Linked DNA regions of Homo sapiens. The protein of the gene in region 1 interacts with the protein of each later gene in a pairwise test. Each region holds a gene or a part of one and is shown in the gene's direction. Other genes may lie near its edges.

What was found.
Region 2: the proteins of CLEC2D (region 1) and ERMP1 interact in binary tests that used the Homo sapiens proteins (3 or more experiments, as listed by UniProt).
Region 3: the proteins of CLEC2D (region 1) and CLDN19 interact in binary tests that used the Homo sapiens proteins (3 or more experiments, as listed by UniProt).

Annotation. Positions count from the first base shown.
Region 1 is NC_000012.12:9,664,765-9,672,724, forward strand, and holds the start of CLEC2D (C-type lectin domain family 2 member D), read left to right. Parts: upstream 1-4,948; 5' UTR 4,949-4,970; coding exon 4,971-5,031; intron 5,032-7,960. UniProt on the Homo sapiens protein: Receptor for KLRB1 that protects target cells against natural killer cell-mediated lysis. Inhibits osteoclast formation. Inhibits bone resorption. Modulates the release of interferon-gamma. Binds high molecular weight sulfated glycosaminoglycans.
Region 2 is NC_000009.12:5,830,118-5,836,987, reverse strand, and holds the start of ERMP1 (endoplasmic reticulum metallopeptidase 1), read left to right. Parts: upstream 1-3,870; 5' UTR 3,871-3,960; coding exon 3,961-4,298; intron 4,299-5,959; coding exon 5,960-6,261; intron 6,262-6,870. UniProt on the Homo sapiens protein: Within the ovary, required for the organization of somatic cells and oocytes into discrete follicular structures.
Region 3 is NC_000001.11:42,732,593-42,737,266, reverse strand, and holds the end of CLDN19 (claudin-19), read left to right. Parts: intron 1-1,236; coding exon 1,237-1,389; coding exon of another isoform or gene 1,390-1,505; exon of another isoform or gene 1,506-2,132; coding exon 2,133-2,181; 3' UTR 2,182-4,174; downstream 4,175-4,674. UniProt on the Homo sapiens protein: Forms paracellular channels: coassembles with CLDN16 into tight junction strands with cation-selective channels through the strands, conveying epithelial permeability in a process known as paracellular tight junction permeability.

The DNA of each region.
Region 1 (7,960 bases):
CAGTTTAATCAATATGCTATAATTATTGTGTAATAATAAATTACCATAAACTAGGGGTGCTATGATCTCAATATTTGTATCTCCCACTCCCAAATTCACATGTTGAAATCCTGACTCCCAAGGTGATGGCATTAGGAGATGAAACCTTTGTGAGGTCATTAAGTCATGAGGGTAGAATACCGATGAATGGGATTAGTGCCCTTACAAAAGGGGCCCACCAAAGCTGCCTTGTTCCTTCTACTATGTGAGGACACATCTAGAAGTTACCATCAATGAACCAGAAAGTGGGCCCTTACCAGGCACCAAATCTGCCAGCACTCTGATCTTGGACTTCCAGCCTCCTGAACTGTGAGAAATAAATTTCTGTTGTTTATAAGTTACCCATTTTATGGTATTTTGTTACAGGCACATGAACTAAGACAAGTGGATTAAAAACAACACAAATTATTATTTTACTGTCTAGAAATGAGAGGTTCAAAATGGCTAAAGTCAGGGTGCCACTGATAGGGCTGCATTTCTTTTGGAGGCTCTAGGGAAGAAGCCGTTTCCTTGCCTTTTTCAGCTTCCAGAGGCCACCTGCATTCCTTAGCTTATGGTCCCTTGCTACAGCTTTAAAGCCAGCAGCACAGCACCTTCAAATCTCTCTCTGACAGTGACATTCCTGCCTTCCCCTAATAAAGACCCATGTGATTAGATTAGGCCCACCTGGATTATCCAAAATAATCCCTCTGTCTTTAGACCCTTAACCATATGTGCAAAATGTCTTTTGTCATGTAAAATAACATCCTTACCTCAAGGTTTTGGGAATTAGCTTATTAATGTCTTTAGGGGGTCATTATTCTGCTTTCCACATACATTTAAAATTAACTATCAGGCTACAAAAGTCATATATGAATTGAGCTTGTTTTGCCCCAAAGGCTGTGTTCTTTTTTTATTTTTTTTATTTTTATTTTTTGAGATGGACTCTCACTGTTGCCCAGGCAGGAGTGCAGTGGCACAATCTCGGCTCACTGCAACCTCCGCCTCCTGGGTTCAAGTGATTCTCCAGCCTCAGCCTCCCAAGTAGTTGGGATTACAGGTGCGCACCACCACGCCCAGCTAGTTTTTGTATTTTTAGTAGAGACAAGGTTTTGCCATGTTGGCCAGGCTGGTCTCCAACTCCGGACCTGAGGTGATCCACCTGCCTCGGCCTCCCAAAGTGCTGGGATTATAGGTGTGAGCCACCACACCCTGCCAGCTGTGTTCTTTTACATCATAATACACTGCCTTTTATATCCCTCACTTATTCAATATCATTACCATCCATCATGCTGTCACAAACACAAAAACCCAAGAAAAGTGGGATACAGGTCATTGAGAATAAATAATTTTTATAAACTTTTGTTCTTTCTTGTAACTTTTTATCAGTCAGCTATTCCAATGAAGCAAAATCTGATAATATATTGCTTTTATACTACTTAGTTGAGACACTCACATCTATTGAAGAGTAATGGGCACTTTGAAGGGGCTTTTTTCTTTCCTTTTATATCCGGTCAATTAGTCATTAATTTCTGCCTTCTAATATAGACTCAACTAAAAAATTATATTTTGAAAAAAATTTATTTTCTAAATGAAATTAAAATTACTCTGTATGTGTACTTCTTTTCCTCACACTGGAATTCTCTAAGGACAGTGTAAATGCACATCACTGTATCTTATGTGTGGTATCTTATGTGTGGTATCAGCTATTTAACACAAGGTTGCATAAGAAAGTAAGCACGACGATATGGCTTAGAAGTCATGAGATTCACATAGTTTAATATAAAGCTCTTGTGATAATTGGAGAGTTATTTTGTCACATTTCTCCTTTCATAATTTATGCTCCAGCTCTCTCAGATTTCAGGTGTTTTCCCAACTCTGAGATATATTCTCTTCTCTCTGGGCCTAACTAAAGAAACTAGAAGACTTTCTTCAACTGGAAGACTTCTTCCTCCACCTCAAATGCCTCACTTTATTTTTTTTAATTAATTAATTTATTTATTTATTTATTGTTTTGAGACGGAGTCTCGCTGTTTCGCCCAGGCTGGACTGCAATGGCACTATCTCGGCTCACTGCAAGCTCTGCCTCCTGGGTTCATGCCATTCTCCTGCCTCAGCCTCCCGAATAGCTGGGACCACAGGCGCCTGCCACCGTGCCCGGCTAATTTTTTGTATTTTTAGTAGAGACAGGGTTTCACTGTGTTAGCCAGGATGTATGTATTTATTTATTTTGAGACAGAGTCTCATTCTGTCGCCCACGTGGTGCAACCTTGGCTCACTGCAACCTCTGCCTCTAGGATTCAAGCAATTCTCCTGCCTCAGCCTCCCAAGTAGCTAGGACTACAGGTGCAAGCCACCATGCCCAGCTAATTTTTGTATTTTTAGTAGAGATAGGATTTCACCATGTTGGTCAGGCTGATCTTGAACTCCTGACCTCAGGTGATCCACCCGCCTTGGCCTCCCAAAGTGCTGGGATTGCAGGTATAAGCCACCATGCCTGGCCTAAATGCCTCACTTTATTTAACTAACTCCAGCTCATTTGATTGGTACTTTCTTGGGAAAACTTCTTCTGGGTTAAGTGCCCTCATTAACTGCTCTCCTAATAAATTATTCTACTGCCATTCACATCTTGTTACAATAAGTCATGTATACCTACTTATTTTTCAGTTTCATATTAACTTCCTTAAAGAAAGGGACATTACCCTCAAAGTCCACCTGGCGTGCTGGCTGAAAGATGTTAAGTTTGAAAATATTTGTTAAAGGGTAAATGATTATGTACATCTTTAGGACTTCATGAACTTACTTTCAGTTTAGTTTCCACATAAGGAGAAACTTACAGCAACGTAGAAACCAAGAGATTGATATGAATAAATGATGTGACTAACTCACAAATACCATGTCATTTGATATTTGACCTTTAAAGTAGTTTTCATATCAGATCTGTCAGTCATGGGTTCTATAGCTTACTGTGAACTTAGACATATTAGTTAGTCCCTCACCCAAAATCATCTGAAAAATAAAGGTAATATCAGCCTCATTAGTTAGTTATGCCAATTAAATAAGAACACATATTTAAATCTCATATTAATGTGTATGGAGCATAGTAAGCAGTAATAACCTGGCATGTTGTCATGCCAGGCTAGTAACAGTAAAAGTAATAGTAGTTTCACTGGAAGGTCCAAGATTAGTGTGGAAATTCCAAGATGATTAGTGTGGAAATTCCAAGATAAGTGTGGAAATCTCAATTTATCAGGGTTTACCTTTTGTCCCCTTTAAGCTAACAATGAAATTATAAAAGGATATAAAAGGGATAAGCCTGACAGTTCATATCCACTTCTGTGTATGATAATATAACTGGAGAGACATCAAACTCATGCTGAGAACAACTAGAAGAGTTAGAATTGAAGAAAAAGGATTTCATTAAGATATTAGAGAGTGTTCAAGGCAACTGGAGGCAGAACGAAGATTCTGGAAAGGGGCCACAGAGAAGTGAGTCAGCATTCCAGGAGCCACCCTTCTCTTAGGGGCATCTTGGCAGTGGGTCAGATGCTGAGATTCTGGGGAGAGGGCTGTGGATACCAGGCATTTTTTTGGGGGAGAGAAAAATCTCTTCCTAAAGCACTTGAAGGACCAAAACCCCCAGAGAGGAGAGAGGGCCAAAGAAATGAGAAAAATTTTTCTCTCAAGCAATTTTCAAATTATTAAATTTCACAGGAAAGGAGGTTAGGAAGAACTATGTGAAAAACAGACTTGAACTTTTGGCAATCACATGTTGTTCAGGAGACAAAACCAAATTCAACTTCCAAGAAAGAGAAGCAGCTTTGATAAAAAGCAGGTTCTCAGATGGAATTACTAGAAGGCTTTATCATAGGTCCTAGGACAAACTAGAAATGATGAAATAGTAAAGAAAAAGATATATAAAATCTTACAGAAACTGGAACTCAGTCCTAATGCAACTTCATTTCTATTTGATAAAGGCAATAGCTGTCCAATCTGGAACTTATTTCTTACAGGTAAGGGGGGCTACTGTATAGAATTCAAAAGCAGGGAAAATATGTTGTCAGAGTTAAGATAGAGATTGTATTTGGGGTAATGAGCGTTGCAGGACATGAGTAGGGCACATAGCGTGTTGGTATTGTTTTACGTGGTTTTAAGATATACTTCATCTAGGCACTTGTTACATGTTATATTTTTAATGAATGTGTTTAGTTGTATGCTTATGATTTGTGCACATTACTATAAATTATATTTTAGTAAAAGGTGCCCTTACTGGCATTTATATACAAGAAATCAACACATCTGACAAGAAGCTCTTGCTGCTAAAGAGCCTCTGTGCTCCTGGATCATGCCAGAGGGAGCACAGAAGCTGCACACCGTTCAAGCCCATTTTTGAAAAGTTGTTGTAGCAGCCATAGCAGCAAATTCCCAAAATATCTTGAAGAAATTGAAAACAAGATATTTTTTGAATGAGCGTAAACTCTTGGGAATGAATTTTAATTTGAGATTAAAATTGCTGTTGTCTTTACTTACCTAACATTCATTTCCTCTGAGAGCCAACTCCTTCCTTTCAATAAATTCTTATTTTCTATCATAATATTGCTTTGTACCGCACAAAATACAATTATAATTTTTAATAGTCAAAGAAATTTTAAGTTATCAAACATTAGTTTCTTTCGTAACCAAAATACTGTTAGAGAAGTAGCTTCAACTTTTTAAAATTCTTACAAACACCAGTTTATTCTGTTGTGATGAGCTGATTTTTGAAACAATTTATGCTTCATTTGTTCCTCTAGCTATATTTAACTTAAAGGCTTGACATTTTGAGTTACTGGGGCGGTTACACACTTACACGTTTTAGTCGTTGGGCTTTTTTTTTGTTTTGTTTTGAATCATTCTTGGGGTTGAAAACGTAGAGACTGTGGTTTAGATCACTCATAGAAACTGGAGGCAAAATGCATGACAGTAACAATGTGGAGAAAGACATTACACCATCTGAATTGCCTGCAAACCCAGGTAAGAAGCTGGGCTCTACAGAGTAAGTGTGAGGACTGGAATGGGAAGGTAGTGGTAGTGATGGGCTCACACAGGAAAGGTGCTGATCTAGTAAAAAGTTTTCAAGGATAAGAGATGGAATGTGGGAGTCCATAAATTGGCTTATAATTTGTGTAAAACATGCATATATTTATATTCCCAGTTCTAACAACTAAGGAGAGGGAACAATGAGAGAAAGATGTAAGACAATGAGATAAGGTTAAGTTTAGGATTGAAAATAACAGTTAATTTCACTAAAAAAAAATCTATACAAACTCTAAAGTGTTACTCAGATACAAGATACCATCATTATTACATAGGTAGAAAACCTATCATGGAAGCTCTTAAGAGAGAAAAGGTAGAAAATAGTATGTAAAGGACATTTACAAATCAAAAAAGTAACAAAGGTTGAGTAGAAACTTAGTAGGGCATTCTAATGGAATTATGTTACATTGGATGCACTGGAAATATATATATATATAGCTTTATATGATGCTTTAGTAAGTGAAAAAAATGACTTTTGCCACAGTTAGGGAATATCAAGGTTTTATAACTTAGGACTTAAAAGTTTGGAGTTTTCTCCTCCCAACTTAAAAGGTAATCAATTTGGAGAAAAGGTAATTCAGAGGCAGAAAAAGATGAACTCTAAATGTTGTTAAATGACTTCATTTATTTCTTCATTCATTGGGTATTTTGAGCATTTTATACCAAATGCTTTAAACTGTTTGTCGGATAGTTCCAACATCTCTGTCATGTCCTCCTTGGCTTGTGTTTTCTTTCCCCATGGAAGTTGACATTTTCGTGGTTCTTCATATACTGTGTAATTTTGGATTGTAATTTGAACATTTTGAACAAATATTTAGTTAGACTGGATCTTATTTAAATTTTGGAGTATATTGATACTATTGTTTTAGCAAGCAATCACCCTGGTGAGATGAAGACAATCTGTGGGATCTGGTTCCAATGTCAGTTCCATTCTGAAAGCCTTTGTAGTGCTATTCAGACATGTGCATCAACCAGGGGTGAAATTGGGAACTGTGCAATGCTCTACTCATTAGTTCAGGTCTTAGCATCTTTAGTGTGCCAATTAGAACCATATCTAGGCATGCATAAGTTGAGGGGCAGGTGAATCCAGGAGTTTATGAATAATGTTCATGGGTCTCTTTCTAAAGTTTCTTCCTCTTCACCATCTGACCCGTACTTTCAGGTTCCCAGGGGCTTCTCCTTTCCATCCTCCAGCTAGAAATGCGGGCCTCCTTTTATTCTGATGAACCATATACTTCTGCAATTATAGCTGCATCTTTAAGCTCATGTGGCAGACGGACAGTGAGAAAGAAGAAAAAAAAAGCAAGAGGTTTGGCCCCACTCTCATGGAGCTACAGCTCAACTGAATGGAAAGGATTGACTTTAGATTTCTTTTCTTTTTTTGAGGTGGAGTCTCACTCTGTCCCCCAGGCTGGAGTGCAGTGGCGCGATCTCGGCTCACTGCAAGCCCCGCCTCCTGGGTTCACGCCATTCTGCCTCAGCCTCCTGAGTAGCTGGGACTACAGGCGCCCGCCACCACGCCCGGCTACTTTTTTGTATTTTTAGTAGAGACGGGGTTTCACCGTGTTAGCCAGGATGGTCTCGATCTCCTGACTTTGTGATCCGCCCGCCTCGGCCTCCCAAACTGCTGGGATTACAGGCGTGAGCCACCGCGCCCGGCCGAGGATTAACCTTTCTCAAGGTTTTGGCTATTGCATGTTGCTGTAGTTTCCCCTACCATCATCAGATTGCCTGAGGTTTGAGGCACATGAGAATGTAGACAAGAGGGGGAGAAAAAATAAACGTGGTATTTTCACACTCTATTTGAGATAGGAGTTTGCTTTTCTGTTCCTCAGACCATACCTCTAGTGCTTCTCCTGGAGCCCTCTCTTTATGCTGACAGAGGCTCAATTCCATGTTTCTGGCTGTATTAAGTTCGGGGCAGTGATACTAGAGGAGGGAAATTTAAATTCACCACTGGTTTGATGGCTCTTTAAATTTGGATATTCTTGTAAGATCTGCTGCTAGTATATCCTTTTTCCTTTTGCTCTTTTTTGTTTTGTTTAAAGACCATATTTTTAGAGCCATTTTGGGATCACAGCAAAATTGTGAGAAAGGTAGTTTTTTTTTTCATTTTCTCCTTGTTGCCACACATATATAGACTCTGTCTTAGTCTGTTTTGTGCTGCTATTACAGAATACCCAAGACTGGGTAATTTATAATGAACAAAATCTATTGGCTCATAGTTCTGGAGGCTGGAAAGTTCAAGACTGAGAAACACATCTTGCTCCATCATCCCATGGCAAAATTTGGAAGGGCAAGAGAGCACATGCATAAGAAAGAGAGAGAGCAAGAGGCACCAAACTTGCTTTTATAACAAATCCACTTTCGTGATAGTAAACCCACTCCCATTATAAGGACATTATGACCTGATTACCTCTTAAAGGACCTGCCTCTCAACACTATTGCATTGGGGATTAAGTATCTAACACATGAACTTTGGAGACACATTCAAACCATAGCAGTCTCTAACATCAACATTCTTCACCAGCAGTACATTTATTACAATTAATAACCTACATTGGCATATTGTAGCACTCAAAATTCATAATCTGATGGACTTCCCTTTGTCAGTGACCTGACCTTTCTCCCTGGCTGCCCTTAATATTTTTTCTTCCATTTCGACCTTGGAGTATGTGTCTTGGGGTTGATCTACTCATGAAGTATCTTATTGGGGTTCTCTGGATTTCCTGAATTTGAATATTGGCCTGTCTTGCTAGGTTGGGGAAGTTCTCCTGGATTATATCCTGAAGTGTGTTTTCCAACTTGGTTCCATCCTCCCTGTCTCTTTCAGGTACTCCAGTCAGTGGTAGGTTCGGTCTTTTTA
Region 2 (6,870 bases), on another chromosome or scaffold:
CTACCTAGATACAGGGACGTAGAAAACACAGGGGACCAGCCCAGAATTTGAGGGGGGGTTAAAAGTAGAGTGCAATTACCCTCTCCCTAGGCTCCAAGGCCCGTTAAGCTCATGGGGGTAGAAAAGCTCTGAAGATTTACAGATCTGGCTCATGTGCCTTTTAGAATGCCCTTTCTTGCCAGCACTGTCAGCCCCCAGGTTTCCTGGCTTGTTGGAGGTGATCCGTGGAGCTGACCATTGTCACCAGTTCCTGAATGTTCCATTTCAGAGCTTCAGAGTTGGAAAGATCAATTGTCCAACAGCACCCTGACGCCCAAGCTTTAGCCTTAAGGGATCTAAACAAACAAACAAACAAAAACCTAAAAAAACTGATGGTGTACCCTGAACCTTTAAACAAAGCTGGTTCACTCTCATACCACCTCAGTGAGCACAGAAAACCAAGCTATCCGCAACAGCACCTAGCTACATTTACCCATAAACTCTTCCACGTTTGGAATCCTTGCACTTGGTTTTGACTTGCTCTGCCTGTCAGCTTTTGACAACTGCTTCTTTTTTCTGCAACTGGTTTGGGCTCACTTCTCATCTCTTGGCTTGGTACCTCACCTGATTTGAATGTCACTGTAACATCATGTAAAAGGCATCCTTCTGCTAGCCTGAGCCTCAGAGAACTTCACCAGATACACTGGTAGCCTCTCTTCCAAGGAAGAAAGTACACAGGCTATGGTTTTCTTCTACGGCAAATTGGCTATGGAATGACCTGTGGGGAAGACAGAAACTGGCAGTTCACCTGAATCCTGACAGCTCATATGTCCTTCCACTTACCTTGGCCAAACTACTAGGAAATACTGAAAAGATGGCAAGACAGAAGGGACATGGGACATCTCTATGTCTGTCAGTCAGTTTAGCTCTTACTTTGTCATAAAGGGAGACACAAGCATAACTGCCTGCCAAGTCAGATGAGTTGACTCAACCCCATGATCAATAGCTCACCAGACGGGGCAGCCACAACCTTTCACATTTATCTGTTCCTCATCCTTATCAGGGATTTGATATGTGAGAACTAGAGCATGTGTTCCAATTCACTGTGGTCTACTTTTAACACAAATAAAATTATAGATCAAACTGGCTTTGAACACTTCAAAGACCAGACATTATCAAAGTGTTTTATAAGCCTATATGTTCTAGATGTGGTCACTGTGCTGCTCTGCCTGGGATGGAGACTGAGTGATCTTATATAACATCACCTAAAGCATGACCTTTCACTGCTCAAAACCACCCCAGAGTCCTCACCAGGGCCAGGAGGCCTTCCTTGCACTGGCTCCTACCCACCTCTGTCACCTCACATCTACCAGGGCTCCTGGCTCAGTCTGCTTTAGTGCATGCCTTATTCGACGTTGCCTCTGAACATCCCAGCTCACTTTCCTCTGCTGGAACATTCTCTCCCCAGGCTTATGTGGCCCTGTTCCTCACTTCATTCAGGTCACCTCAAATGTCATCTTCTCAGAGAGACTGTGAGACCATCTCTGATCACCCTAATAAAACAGCAGCTTTTGTCAGTCTCAATTTCCCTGCTTTATTTTTCTTTATGGCACTTAACTCTCTGACATTTTATACACACACACACATGCGCGCGCGCGTTCATTGTCTCTTTGTTAGAATGTAAGCTCTCTGAAGGTAGAAACATTGATTTGTTCTTCTCTGTTTCTCCACCTTAATCAGTATCTGACACAAGTAGATATCCAACAACTAGTAGCTAAAAATATTCAAACGTGAATACCGTAGACTATACAAGTATAGAGAAAAACTGCCTTTCAGGAACTCAGCTGTAACTTAACTCCTACCACCTAGAGTTCTATGATTATCATGATAGGAAAGTAGCTTTTAATCTAATCTACAAAGGATTTCATGAGAAGGAAAATTCTGAAAAATAGTTTTTAATGAGAATCTTATGTGAGGATCTTTCACACACACACACACACACACACACACACACACACACACACACACACATCTATCTATCCATCTATCATCTGTCTATCTATCTAATCCTCACTGAAGCCCCTTAAGGCAGGTATCATCTGCATTACCACAGATAAATACACGTGGACTCTGTGAGATTGTAACTTGAATAATGCCATGTGTACTAAAGGTACCAGATCCAGGAACTCAGATCTACCCGTCCCCAACAGCCAGGCAGCCAGGCATTTCCCTATTATGGTACCATGGGATATTGTCAGACATACACACACACACACACACACACACACACACACACACACACACATATATACATACATATAGTTATGACCATGGGCTAGGCTCTTATCCAGAGCTAAGCACTATGGATACAGTGATGATTAAATAAGATAGACACTGTCTTTAGTCTCATAGTGCTTACAGACTGAAAGGGATCTTGTAGAGCTAAAATTATGCTTGCTGCCACAAAAGTGGTATGTTTTCATTTTTTCATTCACTCAAGAAATATCTATTGACTACATACTATGTGTCATGCTTTGTGTTAAGAGCAAGGAATAAAATGGTGAGTAAAACCAGACCTGATTCCTGCCTTCGTGGGGCTTACAGTCTAATGAGGAAGTTATGAAATAGTCACATGCAAACATGGTGCTGTGAGATCCTACAAATAGGGGAAGCAAGCTTAATTAAATTAGGAGATTCTTGCTTGAGGAAGTACCACTTAATCTGAGATTTAAAGGATAACTAGGAGTTAAAAAGACAATGAGGAGAGAGAAGAACACTCCAGGTAATTCAAACAGCATGTGAGAAGATCCTATTGTAGAAGGAAAGATGCGTGCAGGAAGTCTTTGAAAGAGGCCAGTGTGGCTGGAGAGCTGGAAATAAGAAGCATCCTGGTGTCAGAGGAGCCTGAGAGGTGGGCAAGAGCAGGACTATAGGGCATTGTATGAAATCTGACATATGTGCTAAGTCAAAATCCGGCAGTGTGCTCTCCCAGTTGGTCTCTAGGTTAATGCTCATGCTAATGTAGCAACTCCAAGCTAGGGACAAAAAACCTTGGAGCAGAGAGGCTCATGGGTACCGGCAAGCTGGAAGAAGACTAGATAATCACTAGGATCTGCACTGAAACCAAGGCTCTGCTGCTTAACCGCCCCAGAGAGTCGTCAAGTGAAGAATGGCCTTTCTGAACCTTCACTTGCAGAGTGCTAATGTAGTAGTGGAACAGAATGCTGTTTTGGGAGCCCATGAAATTAGATTTACATTCTTCATCTGTTATCTCTACGTTTCTCAGGTTATAAAATGGGAACAAAGATATTTCCTTTTAAGTATTGTTAAAGATAATTAAATAAGATGATGTATTAAAGGACTTGACCTAGCGCTTAGCTCATAGCAGGTATTCAATAAATAATAGCCATTATTTTTCTTTATCTGTTAAATGGAGACAGTAATAGCACAGATTAAGTTGCTGAGTTATGAAGATCTGATTAGATTATGCATGTGAAAGCAATAGGCCGGGCCTCCTCTGCGTAATCTTATTTCTAATTTTAAGAGCCAGGAACCCACTTTTTTGGAGCCTGATGTTCTAATATTCCTTCCTTACGAAAGCCAGGTCATTGCTTTTTTCATCTGCCTGATGCACTGTAAGAGCCTTGTGTGTTCTTTCAAAAGCGATCTCTCATTTTTCTCGTTTTGGGTTTTTAGGTGTCTTTACATTTGGCAATCTCCGTCCTACAGAGGGCTGGAAAAGCCCTGCGGGAGACGGCATATCCACCACCCGCTGCTGGGTCGGCCCTGCAGCTGTGTGCACCCGAGAACTGCCAAAGAAGCTGGGTCTTGGCGCGGCGGGACGGGCCAATCAGAAGAAGTTTGGCCCTCTGCAGTTTCCGTCCGCTCACTAGGAGGCGCTGCGGCAGCGACGGCGGCGTCGGCGGCGGCCGGGGCTGTCGCGGGTTGGGGCGGTTGGGCTGGCAGCTGAGGCTCGTGGCCATGGAGTGGGGTTCTGAGTCGGCTGCTGTGAGGCGGCACCGCGTCGGAGTAGAGCGTCGAGAGGGAGCGGCGGCCGCGCCACCGCCGGAGAGGGAGGCCCGAGCGCAGGAGCCTCTGGTGGATGGGTGCAGCGGCGGCGGGAGGACGCGGAAGAGGAGCCCCGGGGGTAGCGGCGGCGCGAGCAGGGGCGCGGGGACCGGGCTGTCTGAGGTGCGCGCCGCGCTGGGGCTCGCGCTCTACCTGATCGCGCTGCGGACGCTGGTGCAGCTCTCGCTGCAGCAGCTCGTGCTACGCGGGGCCGCTGGACACCGCGGGGAGTTCGACGCGCTCCAAGCCAGGTACCGGCCGCTCCCTCCTGGCACGGCCCGCGCGTCCGTTTGCGGCTCCTGCGCAGGCTCCGGGGCACCGCACCTGTGTGCACCCGCCCCTGCCGGACCGCTGGGACTCGCTGACCCCTCCCAGGCTGCACGTGGGGTGGGGTGACCTTGCTTGTCCTTCTTCTGGGGTCTGAATTGCCGGGACTTGGGGCTTGCCTGTCCCCGGTTAAGCTCGTGGTGCAGATTGGGGTTGCCAGGTAGATTGAACCTGCTTTCCACTGTCTGCCCTTCGTGCAGATGGTTGGTTGTGAGTCGTCTCCCCATATTCTGGAACAGCTTCCCCTTTTTACCTTGCTTAGCCCTTCTGCTTTCCAGATGGAAATTTGTGTACCTAGACTGTTGTATAAATTCGCTTTGGGGGCGGGGAGTTTTGGAAGGCGCTAGTGCACTGTTCTAACTTTCTGAGGGTTACAGCCCCCACATCTGAAGGCTATAGAAACTCTTTCTGGAACACCGCCCAGTCAAAATTTGGTATGCAGTCTGATAAATTCTCAGATCCCTGCAGTTTATCTTTAGGCCCCTTGGATTAGTGACTGTGTAAGGTTTGACTTTTTTTTTTTTTTTTAAGACCTTTAAGAATGCTAGGAAAGGTGATTAAGTCAAAGATATTGTAACCCAGGTGTGTCAAAGCTCATGAAGTGTTAAGCTGGCGTCAAGTTTTCAACAGCTACTGTGTTCTAAAAAGTTTTTGCTAGAATGCAAAGTGTTGCAAGCTTATTAAGGACTTTCTGAAACGTCTCCCACCCCCACTTCCAGCTTTCCCCACTTGGAATGCAGTGAAAAGACAAAAACAGTTTTGTTTTCATTAGGGGTACAGTTGGTTTTGGCCTGAATTGAAGTTATTAGACCTTGGGTGTATGCTAGGAGGGCTAGGTCCATCAAAAGTTTCCCCCGCCCGCCTTATTTAACCTCTTGACTTGATTATTTTTGCTCATTGGTTTCTGCTACTTAAAGTCATTAACCCAGAATCTGTAACGTTCAGGAGTATGCACAGTGAAGTTATATTCTATCCTGCTTAGTCTTTAGCTTTTTTTGTTTGTTTTCTGAGACAGGGCCTGGCTCTGTCGCCCAGGCTGGAGTGCAGTGGCTCCATCTCGGGTCTGTAGCCTCCACCTCCCAGGTTCAAGCAGTCCTCCCACCTCAGCCTCTTGAGTAGCTGGGACTACAGGCGGATAGTAGTCTACATCTGGCTAGTTTTTGTAGTTTTAGAAGAGATGGGGTTTCACCATGTTGCCCAGGCTGGTCTCAAACTCCTGAGCTCAAGCAATCCACCCACCTCAGCCTCCGAAAGTCCTGGGATTACAGGCGTGAGCCACCGTGCCTGGCCAGTGGTCACACGTTTTGAATACATCCCTAGTCCTTGTATTGGTTTGATATGGGGAGAAGTTGGGAGTGGGATGGTGGAGAAAACTGAAGGGGTCAACTCGTGGGAGGCAACAATAAAAATATGGAACTTTATAAGTGATGTTCACTTGGTGTCTGAAATAATGAAAGGCGGTCCCTTTTATATAAGGCAAAGAACTAAGCTTTTTTGGGGAGGAAGGGGTGTGTAGTGGAAAAGTTACCCACGCTAAGTGTCAATTTTAACTACAAACCTTTGTTATTCTTTTGGTTACTTCCAGGGATTATCTTGAACACATAACCTCCATTGGCCCCAGGACTACAGGAAGTCCAGAAAATGAAATTCTGACCGTGCACTACCTTTTGGAACAGATTAAACTGATTGAAGTGCAAAGCAACAGCCTTCATAAGATTTCAGTAGATGTACAACGGCCCACAGGCTCTTTTAGCATTGATTTCTTGGGAGGTTTTACAAGCTATTATGACAACATCACCAATGTTGTGGTAAAGCTGGAACCCAGAGATGGAGCCCAGCATGCTGTCTTGGCTAATTGTCATTTTGACTCAGTAGCAAACTCACCAGGTATGTACCTGTTTTTTAGTCATTTGGAACTTGTCACAGCCCAGAAAGTTTATTAACATAACCCCAAGCTACTTGGGCAATTGTGGGGACCATTTTCTTGGGCAAACCTTTTTTCTTTGTGATGGAAAGCAGGATAATTAGGATAGTATCATTTAGTTTAGGATCTAACCATTCTGTCTTCTCTTAAGTGCTTTATTAATATTATTTTTTGGTGTTAATGCCAGCAGCCCAGTGATAAGACTTGGAATGTTTCTGGTAGACTGAAGCAGCTTTCTCAATGTTACCAGACAGTGTGTGTGTCCTAGTGTCCTGGAGTTAGGTTCTGACACTTAGAAAGTGTTTTACTCAGCTGGGTGTTATACTAGGCTTTGGGGATACCACATAAGGACAGTCCCTGCCTTCAAGGGTTACTGCATGGTTTTAGAGCAGGGGTGTCCAATCTTTTGGCTGCCCTGGGCCACATTGGAAGAAGAAGAATTGTCATGGGCCACACATAATATACACTAATGATGGCTGATGAGCTTAAAAAAAAAAACTCATGTTTTAAGAAAGTTTACAAATTTGTATTGGGCTGCATTCAAAGCTGTCCTGGGCTGCGGGTTGGCGGAT
Region 3 (4,674 bases), on another chromosome or scaffold:
GTCTGAGCAGAGAGTTTGGGGCAACAGGGAGGGAGCAGTGGAAAGCAGGCTGATATTCAGGAGATAACCAGGACTTGTAAGACTGTGGGCATGGGAACTGAAGGGGATGCTCTGCAAAGGGCCTGGGCCCACCTTGGCTCCTCCCTCACTTCTCAGCCTAGCCAGGAGCAGAGAATGGGACAGTCTTAACCCTAGACATCCCAATGGGCTTTGGGCCTTGGGGTGGAGAGAGGATGAGAAAAGATGTCTGGGCTTTTGCAATCGGGAGGGATGCCTGGAGGAGGCAGAGGTGTTGAGAGGCAAGGGGAGGGAGGAGATCTCAGGTACAAGGTTTGTTCCCTGGGTGGTGGCTGCAGCCACAAAGTCTGCCAAGCAAGGTCCAGCTCAGGCATGTCAGGATAGGACTCGGCCCCCGATCCCTTCAACAGTCCCCAATGCCACTTGGGCTGCCAGGCCCTGTGCTGGGTCCTGGGGACACTGATGGCTCTGTCTGCCCTCAAGGGGCTTCCCAGGGAGCCGGACAAGCAAGGGGCTGAGGCCTCCTGGAGAAAGCATGGTAGTGGAGTCGGCGCAAGGGGCGGGGTGAACACAGAGGATGTCAAGGAAAGACCCCACGAAGAGGTGGCATCTGAACTGGGCTCTGAAGGCAGAGAAGGAACAGGGGAGGCACAGGAGTGGTGGGCTGGGGGGCTTGGTGCCCCAGCTGGGGGTGCCTTGTGCAAAGGCACCAAGGCAGTGAGAACCAGGAGCAGGGCTGGCCTGGCCAGCAGGGTCTGGGTGTGGAGAGCCCAGAGTGCCAGGTGGAAGGGTCTGGCCTTCTCCAGAGGGCAGCGGGAGCAGTCTTGGCTGGGAGTTCTGTGGGCCAGAATGTGACTGGGAAAAAACATGGCAGGGATTGCCCCACTCCTCCCGTGCAGACCTCTCAGGCCCTCCCATGCCCCCTCCACTGGCCAGATCAGGAAATGAGCCCAAGGTTGCTCAGAGCAGGAGCTGGAGGCCCAGCCTCTAGCCTTCACGCCTACCCCAGGCCGGGTCACCCTGTGTGGTGTTGATATTCTGGGCTGGGGGGGAGGGAGAAAGGAAGAGCATTCACCTCAATTTATCTGGAGATATGGAAGAGGTTGTGAGGCTCCAGCCTCCAGCTCCACACACTCTGCCCTTCCTCTGCCAGGGCAGGGACTGGGAACAACCTGAGACGGCAGCCACACCTGATGCCACTCTCCCTACCCCTTGCAGGTATGAATTTGGCCCAGCCCTGTTCGTGGGCTGGGCCTCAGCTGGCCTGGCCGTGCTGGGCGGCTCCTTCCTCTGCTGCACATGCCCGGAGCCAGAGAGACCCAACAGCAGCCCACAGCCCTATCGGCCTGGACCCTCTGCTGCTGCCCGAGAGTACGTCTGAGCTCCGCCTGCCCTGGCCAGCCCCCCACCCAGTGGCCCCCTTGCCCAGCATCCAGCCAGCCTCGCAGCACCCTGGGCAGGGCCACTGGGGCATAGGATGGGCATAGGTGCTCTGAGCAGCTTGTCCTCAACACAAGCACCCACCCTGCAATCTGAGACCCAGATCCTCAGAGAGACACCAGAGGCAGGACCCAGCCCCCAGGCATACACACAGATGCAGGTCCAGGCACGGTCTTGTCTGCACAGCCTGGTGGGCACCAGCATGCATCCCTGGAGACAGGCCCTCAGGCACCAGCCCGGCTGTTTACTCACTGAAGAGCTGCTTGGGTGTCTGCTACGTGCTGGGCCCTAGAGATAGAGCAGTGGCCAAGACGTACCTTAGTACCCAGGTCCTTGGGGTGAGCAGAAACCTTCACCCTCCCCAGTCCCATGGGCTCCTCACAGCAACCCCACAAGGGCAGTGCCGGGATGCTGAACGTTCACACAAGGACAGGGAGGGTCTGAGTTTAGGTCTCAGGTTCTTCCAGTGCGCCCAGGGCTGGGGGCCACCTACACAGATGGTGAGGTCGGACCATGGCGCCCCTGCCCCCGGGAATGGGCCCCAGGCAGGGCTGCTGTGAGGGCCAAGGTCTGGCCACGCTGGCCAGTACCCATGTCCGGGCCTGAATGCACAGCCCCTGCCCCCGACCCCACAGCTCACTCCACTAACCAGCTCTCTCTCTTTTGACTTTCAGACCAGTTGTTAAATTGCCCGCCTCCGCCAAGGGCCCCCTGGGTGTGTAATGTCCAGTCCCCAGCCAGGCTCTGTCCCCTGCCATACCTAGACTGTGTGTTTCATATTTTTTTGGAAAGAGAAGTGAACATCCAGCCCCAATCATGGTATCATTCGGTCTGTCCTCAGCGTGGCTTGGACGGGGCCTGTGTCAGAGTGGTCAGTGCTGACCCCTGGGGCTCTTGGGCAGAAAGATGAGGAGACAGAGGTCCAGGGTGGGTTACATAGCACATCCAGGGCTAAGCAAGAAATAATTCAGAGGTCCTACCCTCTGTCTAGGGACCCCCCTCCCAAGCCTGGCCTTGGCCTTGGCACAAAGTCCTCCTTGATAGGAGATCCCACTCACTCCTGGAGGCTGCCCCTGAGGCTTGGCCCAGCTCTAGGAGCAGTCCCCAGGGTCAGGGAGCCCCTGGTGTGGAAAGAGGCCCCAAGGTAGTAAACCCTGCCCCTGTTACTGTGCTCCAGAGACCTCCTAAGGGAAGGGACAGTTCCTGGAAGGCCCTCCAGCTGGATGCTGGGGATCAGCGATAGGTGAGGGGACACAGTGTAGGAGCTCCCCATGTAGAAAAGGGAATGTGGGGAGGGCGTTAGGAGCTTGCAGGCATTAGGACTGTCCTGAGCAAGGTCTGCAGCCCCCAGCTCTGCTCACCCCGAATCCTGCCCCTTGTTTCCACACCTACCATTCCTCCTCTCCTGATCCCCAGCATCCAGCTGAGGTCCAAGGTCTTTGTCCTAGAATCAGAGTGGGGAGGGGACAGCCTGGGGCTGCCCAGAGACTGTGGGTGGAGCTGCCTGCTGCACTCAGCAGTGCGGTCAGAGAAGGGCTTTTGGTCTTGAAGTCCAGGTACCATCCCCCCTTAGCATACAGGGGGAAGGGCCTGAGAGGAATGTAAGGAAACCAGCCCAGATCAGTCCCAAGGCCAGAGTCCTTTGTCCTACATCTCCCTGAACCAGAGTGTGCCCTGCCCCTCATGCTCAGACCTCTCCCACCCCAAACCCTCTCCCGGGACTCAGTCTCCCTGGCCACTGCGTATCAGGCTTCTGGGGAAAGCATCCATCACAGAACCTCCCCTTCCCTGCCACGCACCTTCCTTGGCCAGCTCCATTCTGGCCTCCTCCACCACCTGCCTTGTGACCACATCTCCCACCACGTCCCCAGATCTCAAGAACGCAGCTCAGCTTCTCCTTCGAGCTTGACTCTGAGAGGGAAAGTGACGGAAACCAAGTCAGATGAGATGACTGCCATGTACACTGCAGTCAAGGGCAGGGAGGGGAGGAATGACACAAATGGCAGGGAGCTGCTGGGGGACTGACCCCTCGGCGCCTGGCCTGGCCGGTGCTGCACATCCACCGGGGCACAACAGGGACTTGTCCAGCCTCTGGTCAGAGGATGTGGCCACCTGACCCTAAATAGGTTCCCCAGAGTCCTGCCCCTCTAATGAATGAGAACTGCAGGAGTTTCTCCTCTGGGTGCCTGAAGCTATAGTGCAATGGTTCCCAACCCTGCATGCACATTCGAATCACCTGGGGGCACAATGCCTAGGCTCCAACCCCAGACACTCTTATTTCATTGGTCTGGGTGGACCTGGCATCAGAAGTCATGTAGCTCCTCAGGGGACTGTAGTGTGTGGTCAGCACTGAGGGCTCCTCTATGAGGCCTCAAGCCCAGGTGACTCTGTGAGGTCTGCAGAGGGAGAAAAGAACCCACAAGGGAAGAGGTGGAGGTCAGGCACGGTGGCTCACGCTTGTAATCCCAGCACTTTGGGAGGCCGAGGTGGGTAGATACCTGAAGTCAGGAGTTCGAGACTAGCCTGGCCAATATGGTAAAACCCCGTGTCTATTAAAAATACAAAAATTAGCTGGCTGTGGTGGTGGGCACCTGTAATCCCAGCTACTCGGGAGGCTGAGGCAGGAGAATCGCTTGAACTCGGGAGGTGGAGGTTGCAGTCAGCCAAGATCGTGCCACTGCACACCATCCTGGATGACAGAGCAAGACTCCATCACAAAAAAAAAAAAAAAAAAGAAAAGAAAAGAGGTGGGTAGCCGGGCGTGGCGGCTCATGCCTGTAATCCCAACACTTTGGGAGGCTGAGGTGGGTGGGTCACAAGGTCAGGAGTTCGAGACCAGCCTGGCCAACATGGTGAAACCCTGTCTCTATTTTTAAAAAATACAAAAATTAGCCGGCTGTGGTGGTGGGCACCTGTAATCCCAGCTACTCGGGAGGCTGAGGCAGGAGAATTGCTTGAACTCAGGAGGCGAAAGCTGCAGTGAGCCAAGATTGTGCCACTGCACTCCAGCCTGGGCAACAGAGCAAGACTCCATCTCAAAAAAGAAAGAAAGAAAAGAGGTGGGGAGAGGAAGCCCCACTCACTCCTGCCTTTCCCAATACCAGGCTGTTCTGTGACACGCCCACATCTTCCCAATCAATTCCCCTTTTGGCTGAAAAAACGTTGAGTTTGAATCCTGTCCCACACAGCCAGAAGAGCCCTACCTAACAGGATTTG